Regions from separate parts of the Homo sapiens genome. Here region 2 is linked to region 1. Evidence: fine-mapped expression QTL. A gene starts in region 1. The other region holds a variant in brackets. All regions are shown on one strand. Distances are between the middles of the regions. Region 1 holds the start of ANKRD33 (ankyrin repeat domain 33). Region 2 overlaps FIGNL2-DT (FIGNL2 divergent transcript).

Region 1 (5,374 bases):
TGCTATTTCCTTGCAGCATTGAAAATTTATTTACAACAACAGCATGAACTTTTTTCCTAGAATCCCTATCCATCAGACTTCTGTTTGCATTTCATTGGCCAAAACTGCATTACATGATAACACCTAACTGAAAGGTAACTAGAGAGAAGGGGAGTTATGAACAGGGATTGTGTTAGATAATCAGAGATGTCTGGTTTATCATCTGATAGATTTTTTTCTAACTGCTGTATAGAATTCCATAGGGTGCATCTATCCCATTTTGCTGTGATGGCTAGAGGTTTAGCAGCCATCTTGTGCCAAGGAGGAAAAGTCAAGAGAATCCCAGAGAAGGCCCTGACAAGTTTCTTAACCAACATCAACAGTTTCCTATTCCTGAACTTTTTATCATGTATTAAAAACAAGCACCTCTTTGTTTAAGCTACATGTGTCAGAGTTCAATTGCAGACAACAGAAATAAATCTGGACCTGGTGCAGTGGCTCACGCCTATAATCCCGGCACTTTAGGGGGCCGAGGTGGGCTGATCAACTGAGGTCAGGAGTTCAAGACCTGCCTGACCAACATGGAGAAACCCCGTCTCTACTAAAAATACAAAATTAGCCGGGGTGGTGGCACATACTTGTAATCCCAGCTACTGGGGAGGCTGAGGCAGGAGAATCACTTGAACCCGTGAAGCGGAGGTTGTGGTGAGCCGAGATCGCGCCATTGCACTCCAGCCTGGGCAACAAGAGTGAAACTCTGTCTCAAAAAAAAAAAAAAAAGAAAGAAAGAAAGAAAGAAAGAAAGAAATCTGATCAGTTTAAACAGAAAGGGATGGAGAAGCAGGCTTAGGTCCAGGAACAACCCCCAGCTTTGAGAGTCACATGACCTCTGCCTGTGATTGAGAAAACAACAGTCACTACTACAGGAAGCTGATGAATCAGGAAGCTGCTCACCAGAGCCTTGCTGCTGCTGCCATGACCTGTGACAGCAAAACGGATGTCCCATGCTACGTAGCTCTGTTCCAAATTTATATCTTGCACAAGAGCAGGACGCAAACCACAGAGTCATAGCTCAAGGGAATCTGGGAAGGGTTGTTTTAGCTTTCCAACTTCTGCAGCGCAGAAGAAACACTGAAAGCAGTTTTAGATTAATGTTGAGGAGCCCGTCTATTATGGACAACATACCATTCAGCTTTTTGGTTACTAAAAACCAAATGCACATCCAACTGATACACTGCACCTAAAGCAATAAGGATGGAGCTTAAGTGAAAAAGAAAAAACTAACAGAATAAGTTCTATAGCACAATTCATAACATGTTAGTTAAAAACACATACAAGCAGAGCATGGAGGCTCATGCCTGCAATCCCAGCACTGTGGGATGCCAAGACAGGAGGATCACTTGATGCCAGGAGTTTGAGACCAGCCTGGGCAACAAAGTGAGATCCCCATCTCTACATAAAAAAGTTAGACAGGCGCGGTGGCACACACCTGTGTGCCTCCGAGAAGCTCGTAGCTTCTCGGGAGGCTGAGGTGGGAGAATCACTTAAGCCCAGGAGTTTGAGGCTGCAGTAAGCTATGATCATGCCACTCCACTCCAGCCCAGGTGACAGAGTAAGACCCTGTTTCTAAAAAGAAAAAAATAAAATAAAAACACACAAATCAGTACTATCTTTTTCAATGAAATGTACATTTTCAAGGATATACAAGTGCCAGTTGGTAAAGGGTGGAGGAGAATGGGATGTGGGGATTAAGGGTGAAAGAGAGAAACTAAAGAAAGTAAAACAAAACAAGAGAGAGGTCTTGTACAGTCTGATGATGGGAGTGATACCAATGGGGGAATATCATTGGCTCCATTTTCTACATCTGTGGACCAAGACCAATCCATCAAGCTTAATATGTAATATAAATATTAAAGAATATTTTGATAACAATTTATCATTATATTAACAGATCATTTAATTTAAATATTTCATATTTAATTTATCACACTGAAACTAATCTATTAAATTTCATACATCATAATTTCTGGCCAATCCCTCCCTCACTACTGCCTGCCGCACTTTGTGCCCCGACTGCCCACCTGCACTAGACACATAATGTCGGTACTCACAATTTCGTTTGTTTGTTTGTTTTGTTTTTTGAGAAGGAGTTTCGCTCTTGTTGCCTAGGCTGGAGAGCAATGGTGCGATCCCGGCTTACTGCAACCTCTGCCTCCCGGGTTCAAGTGATTCTCCTGCCTCAGCCTCCTGAGTAGCTGGGATTACAGGCGCCCACCACCAAGCCCAGCTAATTTTTGTATTTTTAGTAGAGACAGGGTTTTGCCATGTTAGCCAGGCTGTTCTTGAACTCCTGACCTCAGATAATCCACCCGTCTTGGAATCTCAAAGTGCTGGGATTACAGGCGTGAGCCACCCCGCCTGGCCACAATTTTTTTTTAAAAGGAGGTCTCCCTCTGTTGCCCAGGCTAGAGTTCAGTGGCGCGACATCGGTTCATTGCAGCCTCGACCTCCCGGGCTCAAGCGATCCTCCCACCTCAGCCTCCTGAGTCGCTGGGATAACAGACGTGAGCCACCGGGCCCAGCTCTATACTCATAATTTGACAATTATGTTTTTATTTCCCCAGAACCTCAAAAAATAAGTTCAGGTGACCCCCCTGGAGACCCCACCCCAGGGTCATTCTGAGAGTACCAACCCTATTTAATGAGATACCTGCATTCACTCACCCCCTCTCCCGCAACCACCCCTTCAGCAAGTCGCGCTCCACCCAATTAGGAGGGGCTTTAGGCTGGGCCTAAAAAGTTGGGCCAAGACCCCACGAGGCAGCATCTCCGCCGGCGTCCCCAAGGCTGAGAGTGGGCGCGTCCGTCAGGAGGAGTCGTCTTTGTGAGCCCGCCCCGGCGGGGAGGAGCTGCCCGGCTCAGGCCCCGCCCACCCGGAGGATCTTGGGGCTGGTCTGAGTCCGCTCCTGAGACGTGACCACCCGCCCCGCATGGGGCCCCAGTCCCAGCTGCTTGATCCGGCTCAGCCCCGAGGTGTTTGCAGCAGCTCTTTATGAAAGTCCAGCCATCTGTTACCTGCGTTGCTTCCTGGGGAGGGATAGTCCACCTGGAGGCATTCGGAGACCCAGTGATTGTGCTCCGCGGAGCCTGGGCTGTGCCCCGCGTTGACTGCCTCATAGATACCCTACGAACCCCAAGTAAGAAAAAACGACGACCCTCTCTCCGTGAGTCTCACTGGGGTGCTGACCTAGAGTGAACCCTGCTTGCTTAGGGCTCCTGACCCAGCGCTTGTCCTTTCTCAGGGTGGATGGGGCGAGACCCCTGCTGGGATAAATGTTTTCCCTGGGGCAAGGGCTGTGCACTTCGCAGCTGCTGGGTCCCCTCCCTAGGATCCAGGGAGACACTCACTACTCCTCTCCATTCTGTGTTTTAGATGCCAGCTGCATGAGAAAAGGGACTCACCTTCTGGTTCCCTGCCTGGAAGAGGAAGAGCTGGCATTGCACAGGAGACGGCTGGACATGTCTGAGGCACTGCCCTGCCCGGGCAAGGAGACCCCCACCCCAGGCTGCAGGCTGGGGGCCCTGTATTGGGCCTGTGTCCACAATGATCCCACCCAGCTCCAAGCCATACTGGATGGTGGGGTCTCCCCAGAGGAGGCCACCCAGGTGGACAGCAATGGGAGGGTGAGATGTCCTGGCTTCCCAGAACAGCTGGGGGCATCTTTGCATCCCCACCACACCGTCCTGGCCTGGCTCCCTGAGAGGGGTTCAGGGGCAATACCTCCTGCAGTCCTAAGGAGGAAGGGAATGGTTAAGGGCGGGTCTTCACGGGGTTTGGGGCAGGCTCTGGGACAGATATGGGTTTAGAGGGTGCAAGGGGCCCTGGAGTGGCCCAGGGGGAAAGCAGGGGATCTGAGCTGCCCCTCCCTCAGACAGGCCTCATGGTCGCATGCTACCACGGCTTCCAGAGTGTTGTGGCCCTGCTCAGCCACTGTCCTTTCCTTGATGTGAACCAGCAGGACAAAGGAGGGGACACGGCCCTCATGTTGGCTGCCCAAGCAGGTGTGAGGCTGCTGCACCCCACTTCCGACAGCCCCCTTTTGATGCAGACAGGGCCTCAGCCCCACCCTTGTTGCACGGTGTTCTACACCAGACTCTGTCATGCTGGGTGGAGGGCGGTTTGGGAGCTTCATCACCCCCTTTCCTGGGGACCAAGCTTACCCTTGCTGCCCTGCAGGCCACGTGCCTCTAGTGAGTCTCCTGCTCAACTACTATGTGGGCCTGGACCTGGAACGCCGGGACCAGCGGGGGCTCACGGCGTTAATGAAGGCTGCCATGCGGAACCGCTGTGAGTGCGTGGCCACCCTCCTCATGGCAGGTGTGCGGGGCCTGGACCGGGGTGTGTGGCCTCCAGTCCCTCCTCCAAGCCTTCCCACCAGACACTAAGTCAGCTGTGATTATTTGCAGAAAGGAGAGAGGTGGAGATGGGGGATCAATCTAGTTCACCTTCCTGGAGGGGGGGGCACATGATTTGGGCTTCGTACAATCAACCAAGTCCTGCTATTGATAGCTCAGACATTGTGTGTGGAGGTCCCAGGAAGGAAAGTGTGGGAGGGGAACCTAGCCCAGCTGGAAAATCTAACACGAAAAAAGGCTGGCATCTGGAACCAGCCCCTGTTCCTAGCTGAGTGGCTTCCCTCTTTGGGCCTCACCAGTATTGTGAGGGTGTTAGCTTTCCCTGGGACTACCTCCAACTCTGACAAGCCAGGCTTCCAGGGGATCCAGGGAAGTGTCGTTGAGGCCTGTGGCTCTGTGGGGTCGTTCAGGGGGAGGTGCGGTGAAGTCCACATTGTCCATGGAGTTGTTTGGGGGCCCTTCTTCCCCGCAGTGGGGCTGCCCTCTGCTGGTCACTCTGGGGGACCCCTGCCTCCATTTTTCCCTTCCCCACACACCCCACTGGGTTTGGAGTGAAAAAGGAGTGAATGAAAAAGGAGGGCGCTCTACACCCTTTCTTTTGTCTTAGAGTGACTGCTCCTCCCACAACCCCAAGATGGGAGAGGGAGATGGTGAGAAGAGAAGAACCAGGAGAGGGAACCAGCCGATCATCCCCACCCACCTGCCCCAGAGGGTGCAGCTCAGGCCTCTGCCTGTCCTGGGCAGCCTGCACCGCTGCTCTGCTCAGCTCCTTGGATTGAGGAGATCCCTATTCTGCCCTAGGTGGAGCCCCACAATAGGTCTCTCTGAAGTCTTTTCCCCTCTCTGGACCTAAGTGTCTTAATCTCTCTTAAACAGGAGGTTGCAACACTGGCCTCCCTGATTCCACCTTCAACAGGATGGGACTCTATGGCTTCGAATGTAACCCACATCAGTCTTGCTCCTAAAGAATCTGCCCTTC
Region 2 (5,374 bases), 33 kb before region 1:
CTGCAGCATAGCTCTTCAGCCAGCACCCCAAATTGATCCCACCATGTACCTTACAGTCACACAGAAACTCCCACTAAACATGCATACCTTTTTAATACCTCAGAATCTTTCTGCCTGGAATCTCATTTCCCTACTCTGCCTGATGAGCTCCTATTCATCCTTCAGAACCCAACTCAGGTATGCCCTTCTCTGTAAAGTCTTCCCTATCTGTCCCGCATCCTAGCAGAGCACTTCCAATCTTTTTTTTCCCCTAGGTTCCAGGGGTTGAGCCCACTCCATCCTGTCCAAAGGCAGAAGCCTCCTCCAAGTCCTGCACGATCCGCCCTCTAACATGCAAGCCCATCTGGAACCTCTGGAATCCTACTGGGCTTCTTCGCTCCCTAAAGTTTACAGACCCAGGGCAAAATAGGGAACTGCAAATCCAAGTGGCCCAGAGGTCTCTCCACCCCCACTCTGCCCTCTCTGGGCCTGAGCCTGACAGGAGATTCCCAGCACATCTGGTTGTACTTAAATCATCCAGCACTACTGGAGTAGGTTCCCTGCTTCTCTCCCTTCAGCCCCAGCCTCCTCCCCTTCCTACACCAGCCTTCCAGGTCTCTCCTCCAGGATGCCTTCCCTAACTCATCCAGCCTCGGTATCTGCACCCCACCCTTGAACCTCCACCTCTTTGGGTCTGGAGTCTGCCAGGGTGTGGAAGGGAGGGTGTGTGCTCCGCAAGACTCAGTGTGTAGAATCTCATCCTTCCCGAGCATTGGTCCTAGATAGAAACCTTCCCTTCAGGTAAGGAAGGGAGCCAGCCAAGAGCCTCCCCTCTGCTCCCTTGGCCTCAGGGGTGGCTGTCTCCAGTTATGGGTGTGTACAGTGGGGAGGAACAAGTTCAGATCCAGGCAGAGCCATTCCTTTGGCAACTCTTGCTGTCAGCCATCTTCCAAAGAGCTTTGCAAAATGTTAAAGAACAAAAGAGAAATAAATACAGAGAATATAGCAAGTATAAAAATGCACAGTCTAGGCCAGGCACGGTGGCTCACACCTGTAATCCTAGCACTTTGGGAGGCTGAGGCAGATGGATCACTTGAGGTCAGGAATTTGAAACCAGCCTGGCCAAGATGGTGAAACCCCATCTCTACTAAAAATACAAAAATTAGCCAGGTGTGGTGGCGGGCACCTGTAGTCCCAGCTATTTGGGAGGCTGAGGCAGAAGAATTACTTGAACCCCGGAAGTGGAGGTTGTAGTGAGCCAAGATCACACCACTGCACCCCAGCCTGGCTGACAAAGCAAGATTCTGTCTCAAAAAAAAAAAAAAAAAAAAAAAAGAATGCACGGACTCTAAAGAACAAGTTTGTAACCTACCATGACCTGCTCCACCAGGGCTCCAGGTTTGAATGTTCATTCATTCTTTTATTCAATAGCATGTACTGATGCCTGAGTCTACTAAGTTCTAGGAACAGTGACTCAAGTAAGATCCCAGGGTCAGTGGGGGACAGGAACAGGTGGATGAACAAATGCTGCATGCTGTAATGGACATGAGTCAGGGAGACAGAGGGGTGCCAAGGTTGAAGGTCAGAGACCCTGGACTGAATCCCACCTCTGTCACTTTCTGCACTGTCTCTGGGGAGCCACTTAATCTTGGGGAGCCTGTCTCCCCACCTGGAAAAGGACGATGATGTGACCTCACAGGGTCGTAGTGGGACTCAAATAAGATAATGTGTGTGAAAACGCCTTGCAAAGTGCTAAGTGAGTTGTTGCTATTATGATTAGGCTCAGGGGCTGCCTATCTGACACTCATTTTTCTAATGCCTCAACAGCTGTCTCTCTTACCCTCCCAGGGCAGGTACCACGTTGGAGAAACTTCTGAGGGTGAAGGACACCCACCCTAGAGTAGTGGGCAGTTAAGCTGCCCGCATAGACACACACACACACACTTTAGTTACACAAGCAGAACACCTTTTTATAAAAATTCGAAAGGCATCATGTGCCTACAGCCTCAGTTACTCAGGAGGCCGAGGCAAGAGGATTGCATGAGTCCTGGGCAACAGAGTGAAACCCATTTCTACTATTTAAAAAACACTAATAAGAAAAAATAGATAAGCAGAAAACAAAAAAATTAAAAATCCAACGCCTTTAATCCCACCACCCAGAGATAACCACCAGTAATATGTTGGAGTCAGTTAGCCGGTCACAGTGGTGGGGGGCCTGTGGTCCCAGCTACTCGGGAGACTAAGGTGGGAGGATTGCTTGAGCCAGGGAGATTGAGGCTGCAGTGAGCCGTGATTGCGCCAATGCACTCCACCCTGGGCAACAAAGCAAGACCCCATTTCAAAACAAAACAAACAAAAAACCATTTTGGAGTCAGCTAGATATTATTCTATTTATCTCTCTCTACACACACACACACACACACACACACACACACACACACACACACACACATATGTATATATAGAGAGATCTCCACAGTGTTTTATAATATACTTTTCTTAATAGACAATTTTTTTTTTTGAGAGGGAGTCTTGCTCTGTTGCCCAGGCTGGAGTGCAGTGGTGTGATCGCGGCTCACTGCAACCTCCACCTCCCAGGTTCAAGCAATTCTCCTGCCTCAGCCTCCTAAGTAGCTGGGATTACAGGCATGTGCCACCACAGCTGGCTGATTTTGGCATTTTTAGTAGAGACGGGTTTCACCATGTTGACCAGTCTGGTCTCAAACTCCTGACCTCAAGTGATCCACCTGCCTTGGCCTCCCAAAGTGCTGGGATTACAGGCGTGAGCCACCGCACCCAGACAATGGACAAATATTTTGAACATCTTTTGCTGTCTATAATACGTTTATACCACACAATTGTTAATGACAGCTTAATATTCCATCAAGTGGACATGTCTAAATTAATTTAAAAAGTTTCCTGGCCAGGTGCGGTGGCTCTTGCCTGTAATCCCAGCACTTTGGGAGGCCAAGGCGGGCGGATCATGAGGTCAGGAGTTTGAGACCAGCCTGGCCAACATG[A/G]TGAAACCCCATCTCTACTCAAAATACAAAAGTTAGGTGGGCATGGTGGCGCACTCCTGTAGTCCCAGCTACTAGGCAGGCTGAGGCAGGAGAATAGCTTGAACCTGGGAGGCAGAGGTAGCAGTGAGCCAAGATCTCACCTCTGCATTCAAGCCTGGGCAACAGAGTAAGACTCTTCTGGAAAAAAAAAAAAAAGTTTCCTTTGTTGTTGATTTTTTTCCAGAAATAAAAGCTTCATGAACAAACCTGTAACTTCCACCTTTGTGCACGCGTCTAATTATTGCCTTAGGATAAAGTTCTGGTAACCAGAGGCTAGGAATGCATATTTTTATCTCTGAGGAGCCAGGAGCCCAGGCCTCTGGGCAGTGCTCTCACCTCTCCTCCAGGCAGCCCTCCCAGACCTCCAGGGTTGAGTACATCTCCCATGGTCCTTTCCTCTCCAAGTAACTTCATCTCTTAGAGACCTGCCCTGAGACCCCTGAAAAATGCTGGGAAAGTCTGGCTGGTGACGGCCAGGAGGGGCCGGGGTGGAGAGCACAAAGCAGGCTTGTCTGGGGCACGGGAAGAGGCCCCGCCCTCCGTGCTGCTGGTCCAACATTCCTCCTGGACAATGGCTGCCTTGGGAATCCCGGGAATGAAGGAGGCGGGCGGCTTCCCGAACCTGCGCCCTCCACCCCCATCAAGTTGCGCCCTTTCCCCAGATGGAAAGCAGGGGCACTTTGCATTGCGGCAGGGTGGGGAGGCCAGCTAGCCTCCATGCCTACAGCCCCCGCCCCTCCTTTTACCAACACTAATCCACAACGCCCCGCAGCCGAGTCCTGCTCAGCCACCCCATCCCCATGGACCTTGGGCGAGTCCTGCTCCTTCAACTGTAAAATCAGGAGCTTGGATTCAGTGGTTGCAAAACTCCCCACAGATCTCAAAGGCCGAAATGTAGTGACTAAGGCATGCACAGGCTTTGGAGCCAGGTTGCCCGAGTTCAAATCCTGGGCTGCCCTTTACCCTGGGAACTTAAGCCCCTGGGTTGCCGGCTTCCCTCTCGCAAAGTGTGTTTGTTGATACAGCTCCACTCCCTCCCGATGGGAAGGCAAACTCCTCAAAGTCTATAAATCCCGATCCATGTGTAACTCTGCTCAAAACACTAACCAGATCTCCAACCCCAGGCCCCCTCATACCCTGTGCGGATTTTGGCCCCTGGACATTTGCCCAACAACTGGCCACACTTCTGGGAGCTGCGACGGGCACCTGATATCCCTGACGAAGCATCCTTCCCCAGCATGTTTCCATCTTCCCTTGCATCAGTCATAAGGCCGTAAAGCTGTAAATGGTAAAGGCTTACTGGGGCACACAAAAATTTTAAATATAGGAAAACTCTTATTTATTTATTTATTTAGAGACAGAGTCTCACCCTGTCGCCCAGGCTGGAGTGCAGTGGTGTGATCTTGGCTCTCTACAACCTCCACCTCCCGGGTTCAAGTGATTCTCCTGCCTCAGCCTCCTGAGTAGCTGGGATTACAGGCATGCGCCACCACGCTCAACTAATTTTTGTAGGTTTTGTTTGTTTGTTCGTTTGAGTAGAGATGAATTTTCGCCACATTGGCCAGGCTGCTCTCGAACTGCTGACCTCAAGTGATCTGCCCGCCTTGGCCTCCCAAAGTGCTGGGATGATGGGCATGAACCACTGCACCAGCCAGAAAACTCTTATGTTAGGTCATATGTCCTTATTTTTGTTTGGGAAATGCAGGCATTTCCAATGCCACCAGCAATTGCTAGGCATCATGGGTGGTATACACCCCAGGCTCTTATTAACCTATTGGAGGGTTAGAACAAACACACTTCAACAGGGACCCATTCACAAAGTTACCTCTGGAAATATTCCTGAGCTTTTTGCCACAAATCCCTGCCCACTCTCCCTCATAGACTTGTTCCCTGCTTCCCCTTACTCACCTCCTCCTCAGCCCTATTCCTATGCTCCCCTGAATTCAGATCCTCTGCTGCAAGTGCCAGAAAACTCCCCTCATAATGGCTTCTACTATAAGGAAAATACATGATCGTATTTCATCCAATTTAGACACCAATGATGTTAAGAAGCACTGCTGCTTCATGTACTTGATTGATTGATTGATTGATTGATTGATTGATTGATTTTTCAGAGACAGGGTCTTGCTGTGTTGCTCAGGCTGGTCTTGAACTCCTGGGCTGAAGCCATCCTTCCACCTCGGCCTCCCAAAGTGCTGGGATTACAGGCATGAACCACCATACTTCATGTACTTTAGAAAGAAAAAACACTGGCCGGGCGCGGTGGCTCACGCCTGTAATCCCAGCACTTTGGGAGGCTGAGGCGGGTGGATCACAAGATCAGGAGTTCAAGACCA

The links. PIP is the estimated chance that this variant, and not a neighbour inherited with it, causes the effect.
Region 2: its variant is fine-mapped to the expression of ANKRD33 in tibial nerve (GTEx, PIP 0.97).

Annotation. Positions count from the first base shown.
Region 1 is chr12:51,885,156-51,890,529 of GRCh38, forward strand. ANKRD33 (ankyrin repeat domain 33) reads left to right here and starts at 2,948. Exons shown (of 5, transcript NM_182608.4): 1 at 2,948-3,176; 2 at 3,413-3,663; 3 at 3,912-4,041; 4 at 4,217-4,327. The coding sequence starts at 3,032.
Region 2 is chr12:51,852,440-51,857,813 of GRCh38, forward strand. FIGNL2-DT (FIGNL2 divergent transcript) reads left to right here. Exons shown (of 3, transcript NR_135803.1): 3 at 255-290. Among named protein-coding and RNA genes, the nearest start is that of FIGNL2, 6.4 kb to the left of the region's middle. The variant A/G (reference allele first, on the strand shown) is at 3,000.